2 linked regions of the Homo sapiens genome follow. The protein of the gene in region 1 interacts with the protein of each later gene in a pairwise test. Each region holds a gene or a part of one and is shown on either strand. Other genes may lie near its edges.

The links. Proteins that work in one complex are often made in the same cells at the same time.
Region 2: the proteins of CMTM2 (region 1) and MANBAL interact in binary tests that used the Homo sapiens proteins (3 or more experiments, as listed by UniProt).

The regions. Positions count from the first base shown.
Region 1 is NC_000016.10:66,582,461-66,588,802, forward strand, and holds the end of CMTM2 (CKLF-like MARVEL transmembrane domain-containing protein 2), read left to right. Parts: intron 1-4,536; coding exon 4,537-4,638; intron 4,639-5,458; coding exon 5,459-5,659; 3' UTR 5,660-5,815; downstream 5,816-6,342.
Region 2 is NC_000020.11:37,292,640-37,299,668, reverse strand, and holds part of MANBAL (protein MANBAL), read right to left. Parts: intron 2,374-7,029; exon of another isoform or gene 2,135-2,373; intron 907-2,134; exon of another isoform or gene 790-906; intron 1-789.

The DNA.
Region 1 (6,342 bases):
GAGGCTGAGGTGGATGGGTCCCTTTGGTCCAGGAGTTTGAGACCAGACTGGACAACATAGGGAGACCCTGTCTCTACAAAAAAATTTAAAAATTAGCCAAGCATGGTGGCACATGCCTGTTGTTCCAGCTACTCAGGAGGCTGAGGTGGGAGGATGGCTTGAACCCAGGAGGTCAAGGCTACAGAGAGCTCTGATGGTGCCACTGCACTCCAATCTGAGTGACAGAGTGAGACCCTGTCTAAAAAATAATAAAAGAGGTGTCAAGAAGCCAGGCACAGTGATGTGTGCCTGTAGTCCCAGCTTCTCAGGAGGCTGAGGCAGGAGAATGGCATGAACCCGGGAGGCAGAGCTTGCAGTGAGCCGAGATCGTGCCACTGCACTCCAGCCTGGGCGACAGAGTGAGACTCCATCTCAAAAAATAAATAAATAAAATAAAATAAAATAGACATCTATCCAAACCTGCACAAATTGTATTTTAGGTGACACTTCAGGAGCATTTCCTTAGAGATGCTTACTAGCTTCTCTTGTATTCAACATTGTGATAGAGACCTTAGTTCAATATGACAAGAAAAACAAAAGGTATAGAGATTGACAAGAGGAAAAATCTAATAGAATTATCTACACAGAAAATCTAAGAGAATCTACAGTCAAATCACTAGAACTGATTGAGTTCCACAAGGTTACCAGACACAAAAGCAGTAGTGTTCCTGAATACCAACAATGAACAATGAGAAACATAGGATTTTTTTGGCTGGGCACGGGGGCTCACAGCTGTACTCCCAGCACTTTGGGAGGCCGAGGTGGGTGGACCACTTGAGGCCAGGAGTTCCAGACCAGCCTGGCCAACATGGTGAAACACCAGCTCTACTAAAAATACAAAAATTAACCAGGCATGGAGGTGCATGCCTGTAATCCCAGCTACTCGAGAGGCTGAGGCATGAAAATCGCTAGAACCCAGGAGGCAGAGGTTGCCATGAGCCGAGATGGAGCCACTGCACTCCAGCCTGGGTGACAGAGCGAGACTGTCTCAAAAAAAAAAAAATGCTCTTTAAAAGAAATCACTTAAAACAGCAACACAAACTACAAGGTGTCTAAGAATAAACCTACTGAAAGATGTGTAAGACACTACATAGAGATTATAAGACTTTAGTAATGGACATCAAAGGAAAATGTAAATAGAGAAACATTCCACATTCACAAATATGAAAACTTATCATAGAGATGTCAATTCAATTCTGAATTAATCTATAAATTAAATAAAATTTCAACCTAACATGGGTTTTTCATGGCACTTTTACAAGGTGATTCTAAAATTCTTATCAAAGAAGAAAAAATACTAACAAGGATGGACTCACCCAACAAGATATCAGATTTACCATAAAGCTTTGGTACTAGCTCAGGGATTGACAAGAAGACTAACAAAATTGTTACAGATTGAATGTTTGTGTCTCCCACTCTGCAAAATCATACGTTGAGGCCCTAACCCCCACTGTACTGTACTTGAAGATGGGCCTCTAAGGAGGTAGTTAAGGTTAAATGAGGTCAGAACATTGGGGCCCTGATCAAATAAGTGTCTTTTGTTTGTTTGTTTTGAGACAGAGTTTTGCTCTTGTCACCCAGGCTAGAGTGCAGTGGCACAATCTCAGCTCACTGCAACTTCCACCTCCTGGTTCAAGCATTCTCCTGCCTCAGCCTCCTGAGTAGCTAGGATTACAGACATGCGCCACTAAGCCCGGCTAATTTTGTAATTTTGACTAGAGACAGCGTTTTGCCATGTTGGCCTAGCTGGTCTTGAACTCCTGACCTCAGGTGATCTGCCTGCCTTGGCCTCCCAAAGTGCTGTGATTACAGGTGTGAGCCACCACACCCAGCCAGTATCTTTATAAGAGAGCAGAGAATTCTCTCTCCCGCTTGCTCTCTCTCTACACACACACACATGCACACACATACACACGCACGCATCAAAGAAAGGCCATGTGAAAACGTAGTGAGAAGACAGCCATCTGCAAGCCAGGAAGAGAGCCCTCACCAGAAACTGAATTTCCTGGCACCTTGCTCATGGACTTCAGCCTCCAAAACTGCGAGAAAGTTAATGTCTGTTGTTTAAGCCACCCAGTCTGGGATATTTTATTATGGCATCCTGAGTAGACTAATACAGGGATAGAAAAGAGAACTCAGAAATAGATCTACAAACATATGGCAACTTGGTATATGACGGAGGTAGCATTATAGAACAGTTGAATAGAATATTCAATAAATGTCCCTGGGATTTGTGGACAGAGAGGAAGGGAGGGAGAGAGACAGACTATGTATCCCATTAAAATTAAAACTTCAACAGAAGACATCATAGGCCAGGTACAGTGGCTCACACCTATAATCCCGACACTTTGGGAGGCCAAGGCAGGAGGATCACTTGAGTCCAGGAGTCCAGGACTTGGAGACCAGCCTGGGCAACACAGGGAAGCCCTGCCTCTACAAAAACAATTTTTTTTTTTTTTTTTTTGAGATGGAGTTTTGCTCTTGTTGCCCAGGCTGGAGTGCAATGGCGCAATCTCGGCTCACCGCAACCTCTGCCTCCCGGGTTCAAGTGATTCTCCTGCCTCAGCCTCTTGAGTAGCTGGGATTACAGGCATGCACCCCCACGCCCAGCTAATTTTGTATTTTTAGTAGAGACGGGGTTTCTCCATGTTGGTCAGGCTGGTCTCGAACTCCCAACCTCAGGTGATCCGCCCGCCTCAGCCTCCCAAAGTGCTGGGATTACAGGCGTGAGCCACTGCGCCCAGCTTACAAAAACAATTTTTTTAATTGCACAGTGGCAGGTGCCTATAGTCCCAGCTGAGGCTGAGGTGGGGAGGATCACTTGAGCCCAGGAGTTCAAGACTGCAGTGAGTGGTAGAAACACCCTGTGTCTCATTTCGTTCATTCATATAGTAGGCTACATCAGTTAAAATTAATAAATCTATATTTCTCAATGTGGATAAATCTCAAAAGTCAAAAAGCAAGCATTGAAAGGTAGGATACTTTTTATTTAAATATAAAAAGTGTATTTTGAAATACACAAAATAGTATACATTGTTTATAAATATATAATATGTAGAAAAGCACAAATTCAGACAGGAAAACTGCACATCAGCTTCCAAAAGTTGGAGGAGGGAGGCATGAGGGACAGGAAAAGGGAAGGAAGCGAGGGGGCTGCAGCTCCATCCGTGAAGTTGGACTTCTTGTTTTCAAAGAGGCCTAAAGGGGACGTTGGCAAGACGTTAACATCTGTTAAATGTCAGTGGCTCCTGGCCTGGTGGAGGTGGGAGTCGGGGATAGGATGTTCTATTATTTTCTGGGCATTTGAAATGTATCAAAATTCAAAACATTAAAAAGGAAAAGGCCTGAAACAAAGTGGCCAGGAAAGGACAACAGCAGGAAATGGCACTATAGAAACCAAGGGGGATGGCAGGTGTCTTCCAGCGCTGCAGGATCAGCTGCTTCTCACCCCATCCTCTAGGCCCAGGAGAAATGCGGGAGGAAGCCAGCCTGCTATGGCCATGGTTTGGCCAGCTCTGAGAAGTTTGGCAATGCCTTGTCACTAGCAGGAGGGAAATGCGTATATGGTATGGGGAGGGCGAGACTGAAGTCACAGGGGATGGGCAGGAGGGTTGAGGAAGGAAGAGGTGGTGCTGCCTTGCAAAGAGGGGAAGGGGTCTAGGAAGTCAGGCCGAGGGCAGGGGGTTGCAGAAGAAGCTGCCAGGCTCCCAGTGAGATGCTAGAGTCCATCAGAGCCAGTGCAGCCCACCCAGACTCCAGAGAGGGGAGCTGGTCCTGGGAGCTGAAAGGCGGTGGTGGGGTCCTTAAGAGGGACATCATGACGTTTTATAGTTGTGTATTTATTTAAATGTGTATTGGCTGGGCGCTGTGGCCCACACCTGTAATCGTAGCACTTTGGGAGGCCGAGGAAGGCAGATCGCTTGAGTCCAGGAGTTCGAGACCAGCCTGGATAACATGGTGAAACCCCGTCTCTACTAAAAATACACACAAAAAAAAAATTAGGCAGGCTTGGTGGCACACACCTGTAGTCGCAGCTGCTCAGGAGGCAGAGGTGGGAGAATCACCTGAGCCTGAGGAGGTCGAGGCTGCAGTGAGCAGAAATTGTGCCACTGCACTCCAGCCTGCATAATCGGAGTAAGACCCTGTCTCAAAAAGTAGAAAATAAAAATAATAAATGAGTATTAGTGGGAGGAGACATAGGCAGAAACCAAATGTGTGATTTCACAGAGAGATGGTAGAAGAGGGGGCTGGTGACTTCACAGGCTTCAGCACGAGGGCATTTTAGCATCCTGGACTTTTTAGGTTTCAATTTAAAAAGCCCAGCTGGAGGGCCACAGATATGTCCACCTAGCCCGGTGTGTGTTTATCTTTATGCATACATTTTAAAATCAGGTGGAAATTTGCAAATCATTCCTTTGGAGGAAGCTAGCCAGGGTGCAGTGTTTGTTGATGGGGACCCTGGCTTTGGCTGAGGCTGACTAACCTCTCCACCTTCAGGACCTCTTCAACGACCTGATTGCTTGTGCGTTCCTTGTGGGAGCCGTGGTCTTTGCTGTGAGAAGTCGGCGATCCATGAATCTCCACTACTTACTTGCTGTGGTGAGTCTTTCCATGCTGGGCCTTGCATTTGCTCTGAATTCACTTCTTTTGGAGGATGGGTGTTGTCCTCTGTTTAAGGAAAGGGCTTCTTTATTTTCCACAAAAGTCTTGGGATCAAAGCAAAGTTTAAAAGTTAAGTAGGCCGGGTGCAGTGGTTCATGCCTATAATCCCAGCACTTTGGGAGGCCGAGGCGGGCGGATCACCTGAGGTCAGGAGTTTGAGACCAGCCTGGCCAACATGGTGAAATACAAAAACACAAAATTTACAAAATTTAGTAGAAAATGTATTTTCTACTAAAAATACAAAAATTAGCCAGGCATGGTGGCACATGCCTGTAATCCCAGCAACTTGGGAGGCTGAGGCAGGAGAATCGCTTAAATCCAGGAGGCAGAGGTTGCAGCGAGCAGAGATTGCAGCACTGCACTCCACCCCGGACGACGGAGCGAGACTTCGTCTCAAAGGAAAAAAAAAAAAAGTAAAGTAGACAGATGTTTCCAACGGAACCACCATTTAAATAAAGATGATGTCCGGGGAGCCAGCCCAAGTTCCTTCCTGTAGCTGCCGACCCCAGAGCAAACAGTCCCACTCTGGCTGGGTTTCAAGAGAGAAAAGAAACAGAGATGAGATGGCAGGACGGGGGAGTGGAGAAGGCAAAGGCTGAGGGAGTAGGCACGCTCCTAGCCTCTCAGAGATGGTTGACATTTGAGGGGACATGGGGGATGTGTGAAACAGCACCCCCTGATGAATGAGAAACCAGGAGGGAAACTCACCACCTTTGGAATGAAAAGCAAAAGTCATGAGGACCGTTTTGTTTTCCAGATCCTTATTGGTGCGGCTGGAGTTTTTGCTTTTATCGATGTGTGTCTTCAAAGAAACCACTTCAGAGGCAAGAAGGCCAAAAAGCATATGCTGGTTCCTCCTCCAGGAAAGGAAAAAGGACCCCAGCAGGGCAAGGGACCAGAACCCGCCAAGCCACCAGAACCTGGCAAGCCACCAGGGCCAGCAAAGGGAAAGAAATGACTTGGAGGAGGCTCCTGGTGTCTGAAACGGCAGTGTATTTTACAGCAATATGTTTCCACTCTCTTCCTTGTCTTCTTTCTGGAATGGTTTTCTTTTCCATTTTCATTACCACCTTTGCTTGGAAAAGAATGGATTAATGGATTCTAAAAGCCTAAAGTTGATGTAAGCATTATTTTGTTCATTCAGCAAAAGTTACTGACTGTCAGGGTGCAGAGGGCGAGGCCAGGGCAGGGCCTGGGAGCCAAGGCTCCTGAAGTGCTCCCAGGCTACTGGGCACCAAGGGCCTGGGGGACCAGAAGTGTAGGTGTTGCCGGCTAGTGGCCCCAACCAACTGGCAGGGGGCAGGGGGCCAGGGCATGGGGGGCAGAGGAAGACAAGAAACCAGAAAACAAAAGGATCATTTTGTTCACACTGATTATTTTAATTTTACTTTTTTAAAAAAGCATCCAAGCAATTGTTATGAGAAAAATAAGTTTGTTGGCCTTCCTTGCAGTTTAGTTTTTAGGTTGGTTTTGTTTTGTTTTGTTTTGTTTTGTTTTTGTTTTTTGGTGAGACAGAGTTTCACTCTTGTTACCCAGGCTGGAGTGCAACGGTGTGATCTCGGCTCACTGCAACCTCTACCTCCCAGGTTCAAGCAATTCTCCTGCCTCAGCCTCCTTGAGTAGCTGGTATTACAGGCATCT
Region 2 (7,029 bases), on another chromosome or scaffold:
CAGTGGCTTTCTTCTGCCCATCCCAATGATAAAGGGGCAAATTTACTTTGGAACCAGGCCCACTTGAATCTAAAACCCTTTGTGTTTCCAGAGATCTGTGCCACAATGCAATATTTTGCTAAGTCTGAGCTATCCAATATGGTGGCCATGAGCCACACATGACTATTAAGACTTGAAACGCAGCTAGTTTGAATTGAGATGCTAATTACACACCCATTTTCAAAGACCTAGTATGAAAATAAGAATGTAATCTATCTCATTCATAATGTTTTCATATTGATTACATGCTGAAACGATTGCAGTGGCTCACGCCTATAATCTCAGCACTTTGGGAGGCCACGGTGGGCAGATCACTTGAGCTCAGGAGTTTGAGACCAGCCTGGACAACACAGCGAGACCCCATCTCTACAAAAAAAATAATAAATTAGGCAGGAGTGGTGGCTCACTCCTGTATTCCCAGCTACTCGAGAGGCTGAGGTGGGAGGATCACTTGAGCCCAGGAGCTTAAGGCAGTGAGCCACGATCACGCCACTGCACTCCAGCCTGGGTGACAGAGCGAGACCCTGCCCCCACCCGACCCTGCCCCCACCCCACCCTGCCACCAAAAAATACACGTAAAAAATAATTGGCTGGGCATGGTGGGTTACGCCCAAAGTGTAAGCCCAACACTTTGACAGGCCAAGGCAGAAGCATCACTTGAACCCAGGAGTTTGAAACCAGCCTGGGCAACAGAGTGGGACCCTGTTGCTATAAAAAATTTAAAAATTAGCCGGACATGGTGGTACACACCTGTAGTCCCAGCTACTCAGAAGGCTGAGGCAGGAGAATTGCTCCAGCTGGGAGGTCTAGGCTGCAGTGAGCCAATGAGTCGTGATTGCGCCACCCTGAGTGACGGGGTGAGAGATCCTGTTTAAAAAAAAAAAAAAATTGAATTGAAAGCAAGGACTCAAGATACTAATGTTCATAGCAGCATTATTCACAATAGCCAAAAGATGGAAACAACTAAGAGTCCATAAACAGATGAATGGATAAGCAAAACGTAGTATATACATACAATGGAGTATTACTCAGCCATAAAGGAAATGAAATTCTGATACATGCTACAACATGAATGAACCTTGAAAACATTATGAGCTTTGAATAAATATATATGAAATAAGCTAGACACAAAAGGACAAATATTGTATGAGTCCCCTTATATGAGGTACCTGGAATAGGCAAATTCAGAGACAGAAAGTAGAATTGAGGTTACCAAGGGCTGGAGGGAAGGGAAATGGGGAGATATTGTTTACTGGGTACAGAGTTTCAGTTTGCAAAGATGAAAAAGTTCTAGAAATAGACAGTGATGACGGTTATACAACACTGCAAATACCACTGAATTGTAAACTTAACAATGGTTAAAATGGTAAATTTGTTACATATATTTTGTCACAATTTTTTAAAAATCTGTTTCTTTTTACCCATTTATTTATTTATTTATTTAGAGACAGGGTCTCACTCTGTCACCCAGGCTGGAGTACAATGGCACAAACATAACTCACTGTAGCCTCAAACTCTTATGCTCAAGTGATCCTCCTGCCTCAGCCTCCCAAAGTGTTGAGATTACAGGCATCATCCCTTTTTGCTTTTTAAATGTGGCTACTGGAAAATGTAAAATTATACATAGTCTGTATTATATTTCTGTGGGGAAGCCCTGGGGTAGAGACAATCCTAAAGACCTGCCTCACAGGGCGCAGTGGCTCACGCCTGTAATCCCAGCACTTTGGGAGGCTGAGGTGGGCAGATCACCTGAGGTCAGGAGTTTGAGACCAGCCTGACCAACATGGAGAAACCCCGTCTCTAATAAAAATACAAAAAAATTAGCCGGACATGGTGGCAGGTGCCTGTAATCCCAGCTACTTGGGAGGCTGAGGCAAGAGAATCGCTTGAACTCGGGAGACGGAGGTTGCAGTGGGCCGAGATCACGCCACTGCACTCCAGCCTGGGCAACAAGAGTGAAACTCCATCTCAAAAAAAAAAAAAGGCCTGCCGCCACCTTGGCTCTGCTGCTTCACTGCTTTGCACCATGTTTCCAACATGAAGTAACCGAAGAATAATAAAAACAACCTTCGTAAGTAAACAGAGCCGGACTTACACACGAGTATTGCTTCCCTTTCAGCCTGGTCACTTCAGAAGGTCATGTGCCTGGGGCAACAGGATGGCCACTTTTCACATCAGCTCTGTCTACCATGGGAATGGCCTTCAAAGCTTGAGGCTCTTTTTCTTCCCAGCCAGAATCCTCAGAGCTGGCAGATCTTCATCCTCCCAGGAAGGATTTGACTTCTGGAAAGAGCCCAACATCATCTGGTTCCAAGTGCAGTGAATCAGGTGGCACTGAGCTCAGGAATACCATTTTTGGTCAAATACAAGGTATGATGCTCAGACTCCAAGCAGATTACTTGGGGTGGCTCATAAACTGGCCCTGAAGTGAATTCCAAGGCGGCTGCAAGAACAGCTTCACTGGAAGAAATGTAACAGCCTCTACCAGCACCACCACCATGTGAATACCAAAGCTTAAGAACGCGTCCTCATTTCTCCGCAGTTGCACCTCATAAAGTGTGCATTTTTTAAAACGCCCTTGGCCCCAAGCTTTTTGCTTAAGGCTGTAACAAGCTTTATGAGCTTATAAATACTCAGATTTACTAGTGTTACTACTAACAGCAACATTGTGATAAGAAATATTTGGAGTGGTACAATAGAAAGATAGGGCAAGAGTTGGGAAGCAGAGGACAAAAGCCCCTGCTCTATCTGCAAGTAGCTACACTTTGGGCTAATAATCTCTTGACCTCTGGAGACGGGATGTTCTCATGAGCCAAGCAACAATGATACCTATAATACATTTAGGCCTTTTTTTAAAAAATGGCAATTAGACAAAATATAACAAGAGCCATAAAAGTGATTATATCCTTTGACTGAATAACTTACTTCCTAGAATTTATAGTAAGGAAACAATTCAAAAGAAGAAAAAGCCTTCAGGTACAAAAAAGTTCATGGCAGCACTATTCATAATACTGAAAAACAGGAAGCAACCCAGGCGTCCAACAATCAGGAAGCAGTTAACCCAGTGATGGTACATCATGGCATAATCCCTCTTCACTAACCCGGCAAATATAAACATTGTGTATCAGGTCAGTGGAAAGTCTTTGCAAAGTAACAGTAATTGAAAAAAATAAGCAATTGTATAAACACTATGATTGGAACCATCTATAAGCTGATTTCATGGGCTAAAGATCAAAAGATGCTACAGAAACATAAATAGTTGCTGTTAAGGTGAATAAGTCATGAGTTTTAATTTTTTGGAATGTTATGAAACAATAAAGTATCTAAGAAAAATCTATGCCCTACCTACTTCCTTCACAAGACTTTTGTTAGGGTATAATGTCATACTGTCCAATAAAGCTTTCTGCAGTGATGGAAATGTTCTGTATTTGTGTTCTCCAAATGGTAGCCACCAGCCACATGTGGCTGTTGAAAACTTAAATGTTACAGAGAAACTGAATTTTTCATTTTATTTAACTAATTAACAATAAAAAGCCACATGTGGCCAAAGGTTCCCTACTGGACAGCACAGGTGTAACAGGAGGGTGGTTGTGAAAAGGTTCTGGAAACATAAACTGCTCTACACACACTGTGCGCCGTACGGCTCTCATCTAGTTCTCTCTGCACCTCTGTGCTTTACTTCCCAGCCCTCCTGCCAGTATTTCTGGGCTTTCCTTTCCTGATGACCAAAGTCAAACAAGTCCTATTCATCCTGCAGATCTCAACTAGGAGACACCCCTTCGACTGGCTGTGACAGGTTTTGTTCCCTGGCCATTGTTCCAGCAGCAGCAGCAGTCGGCAAATGAACGGCCAGGTGTTGCGAACAGCACTTTACAGGCAGCAACTCGCATACTTCACCACCACACTGGGAGGTGGTATTACTAATGAGGATGAGGAAACCAAGGCTTGGAGAGGTTATATGACCTACCCAGGGATAACCTGGCTGATAAGTGGCAAAGGCAAGATTCAAAGGGGCTGGCTTCCCCAGAGTCAGGGCGCTTACCCAGTATGTCAATCGTTTTCAAACTGCAGGCTGTGGCCCATTAGTGAGCCAGGAAAACCATTTAGGGGGCTGCAACCAGCATTTTTTATTAGCCAGCACTTTATTTAAGTAGGTAAATAACAATAGAAAATATCAAAGAGTATCACATTAAGGGCCGGTATTATATCCTGAAGCTTTTTCAACATCCATCTACATCTGAGCATGCATGTGCTGGATCAAATTTTAGAATGTTATTTCTTATTGTTTGAGAAATATTACACTGGAATCTACTGTTTTCTATTTGATCCATTGTAATCTCTTGAACAGCAAGGATCTTGGGTACATCTTGAGTTTATTCCAGGTCCTGACTCATAAATATTTGGTAAATGACTAAGCCTATGCCTCTGTTTCCCACCTCGAAAGCAAGAGCAGATGCCTCAACCAACAGAGTCATCATTTAACGACAAGGAGGAGCTGAGAGGCCACGAGGTTTCCCTAGACTCTCCTGATGAGTCAGGGCAGAGCTGCTATCCTGGTCTCTAGCCCTGTCCTGCTCCAGACTTGCTTACAGGTAGAGGTTTTTATACACCAGGGGACTTTCATACCCCATCAGAATTTAACAAAAGGTGCATAATTAATTATTACTGAACGTGGCAAATAATTTCATGAGGTTACTGGACACTGCGAAGTTCACCCCTGAATGCCAGACACTGGTGACGTAAGACATTAATTCATTGGACAAATATTTATTGTGAATCTACTATGTGCCAGGCACTGGTCTAATCCCTGCCACGGAGTTTCCATTCAGTTAGAAGTACTCACATACACACATACACATGCAATGTCAGGGGTGAGTATTACAATACATACAGGAAGGAAGAAGAGGATAGTACTATTTAATATGAGGTGGTCGGGGAAGGGCCTCTCTGCAAAGGTGACATTTCAACAGAGGAAAGAAGAAAGCAAAGGAAGAAGTCATTTAAACATCTGCCAGAGTATCCCAGGATGGAGGGACGGCAAGGGCCAAGTCCCTGAGGCAGGAATAAGCATCATGATCAAGAACAGTCAAGTAAGCAAGCTGCAGGCCATTATGAGGACTCTGGCCAGTCTCTGAGTGAAAAGGGAACTACTGGAAGGTTCTTAGCAAAGAAATCACATGGTCTCACTCATTTCAAAATGATCCCTCTGGCTGCTTTGTTGACAACAGACTGTAGGGGACAAGACTGAAAGCAAGGAGACCAGTGAAGAGGCTACTTTAACAGTCAAAAGACACATTTGCACCAGGGTGGTAGCTGTGGAGGTGGTAAATTCTCAGCTTACAGATATATTTTGGTGAAGGCCAACAGGAATGCTGAGGTGAAATCTGAAAGAAGTTAAAAATAATCCCTGAAGAAGGGGAAACTATCCTGTATGACACTATAATTAGGAATACAAAATATTAAGCATTTGTCAAAACCCAAAAATCTTGACAGCACAAAGAGTAAAGTTTAATGTATGCAAATATTTTTAAAAAGACATAGGAAGGCCATCACAGTGGCTCACACCCATAATCCCAGAACTGTGAGAGGCCAAGGCAGGAGGATTGCTTGAGCCCGGCAGTTTGCGACCAGCTTGGGCAACATAGTGAGACCCAGTTTTTAAAACACACCAACATACACACGCATGAAGTCAGGGTGTTCCAGGATGGAATGCAGAATGTGACATTCTGAATCCAAATGTATTAAACAACTTCACTGAAAGGGTAGTGGGGGAATAGGGTGCTGACCTAAGTAACTTTGAAAACGAGTGGAGCCTGTAAGACTGAAGGCAAAAGGAACTGCACGTACACACTGTACTCTAGCTGATAAGTTGTTTCCCACAGGGGATCGGGGGAGCAATTCTAAAACCACCATACATGTATGCTAAATGGAACAATTAAGTAAATGTATGGTGAATGGTGGGAGTCGGGTTTGTCACAGGTGGAGTGGGAGGTTACAGACAAGCAAGAGAAGGAAGCTAGAACACAGGTCCCCAACCCCCAGGCCACAGACCAGTACCAGTCCATGGCCTGTTAGGAACCAGGCCGCACAGCAGGAGGTGAGCAGCAGGTGAGCAAGCGAAGTTTCTTTTATATTTACAGCCGCTCCCCATCACTCACATTACCGTCTGAGTTCCACCTCCTATCAGATCAGCGGCTGCATTAGATTCTCATAGAAACACGAACCCTATTGTGAACTGTGCATGTGAGGGATCTAGGCTGTGTGCTCCTTATGAGAATCTAATGCCTGATGATCTGTCACTGTCTCCCATCACCCCCAGACGGGACTGTCTAGTTGTAGGAAAACAAGCTCAGGGCTCCCACTGATTCTACATTATGGTGAGTTGTATGATCATTCCATTATATATTACAATGTAATAGTAACAGAAATAAAGTGCACAATAAATGTAATGCACTTGAATCATCCCAAAACCATCCCCACCCCCAGGTCTGTGGAAAAATTGTCTTCCATGAAACCGGTCCCTGGTGCCAAAAAGGTTGGGGACTGCCAAGCTAGAACAATCCATGCAGTCATGGATAAGAGTTGGACATCAGTTATGTTTAGCTGAACGTAGATACAGGTGGTTATATATGGAAATACTTCTAGATCTGTGCATATATACGTATGTCTCTTACTCTGTCCACTGCGAAGGCCTAGAAGCAAGGACACTGAGAAGCACTGAGCATACCTAGAGCCCAGATCTTGTTTTCTGGGCCATTCTCCAATAAAAGGAGCCAGGGCTCCTTGGGAAATGGCTAATTCTAGGACTGGGGCAGAAACATACCAGATGAGTCTGGAATAGAAAGAAAGTGCTCAACAAAACAAAACAAAGCAAAACATATAGAGGGGGATATGTCAAAGGGATACAGGAGCCAAGTGGAAGAGCTCCCAATGGCCAATGGAGGAACAATTTCAGCAACAAAATAAAGTAGTACTGGATTCTGGTCCAAA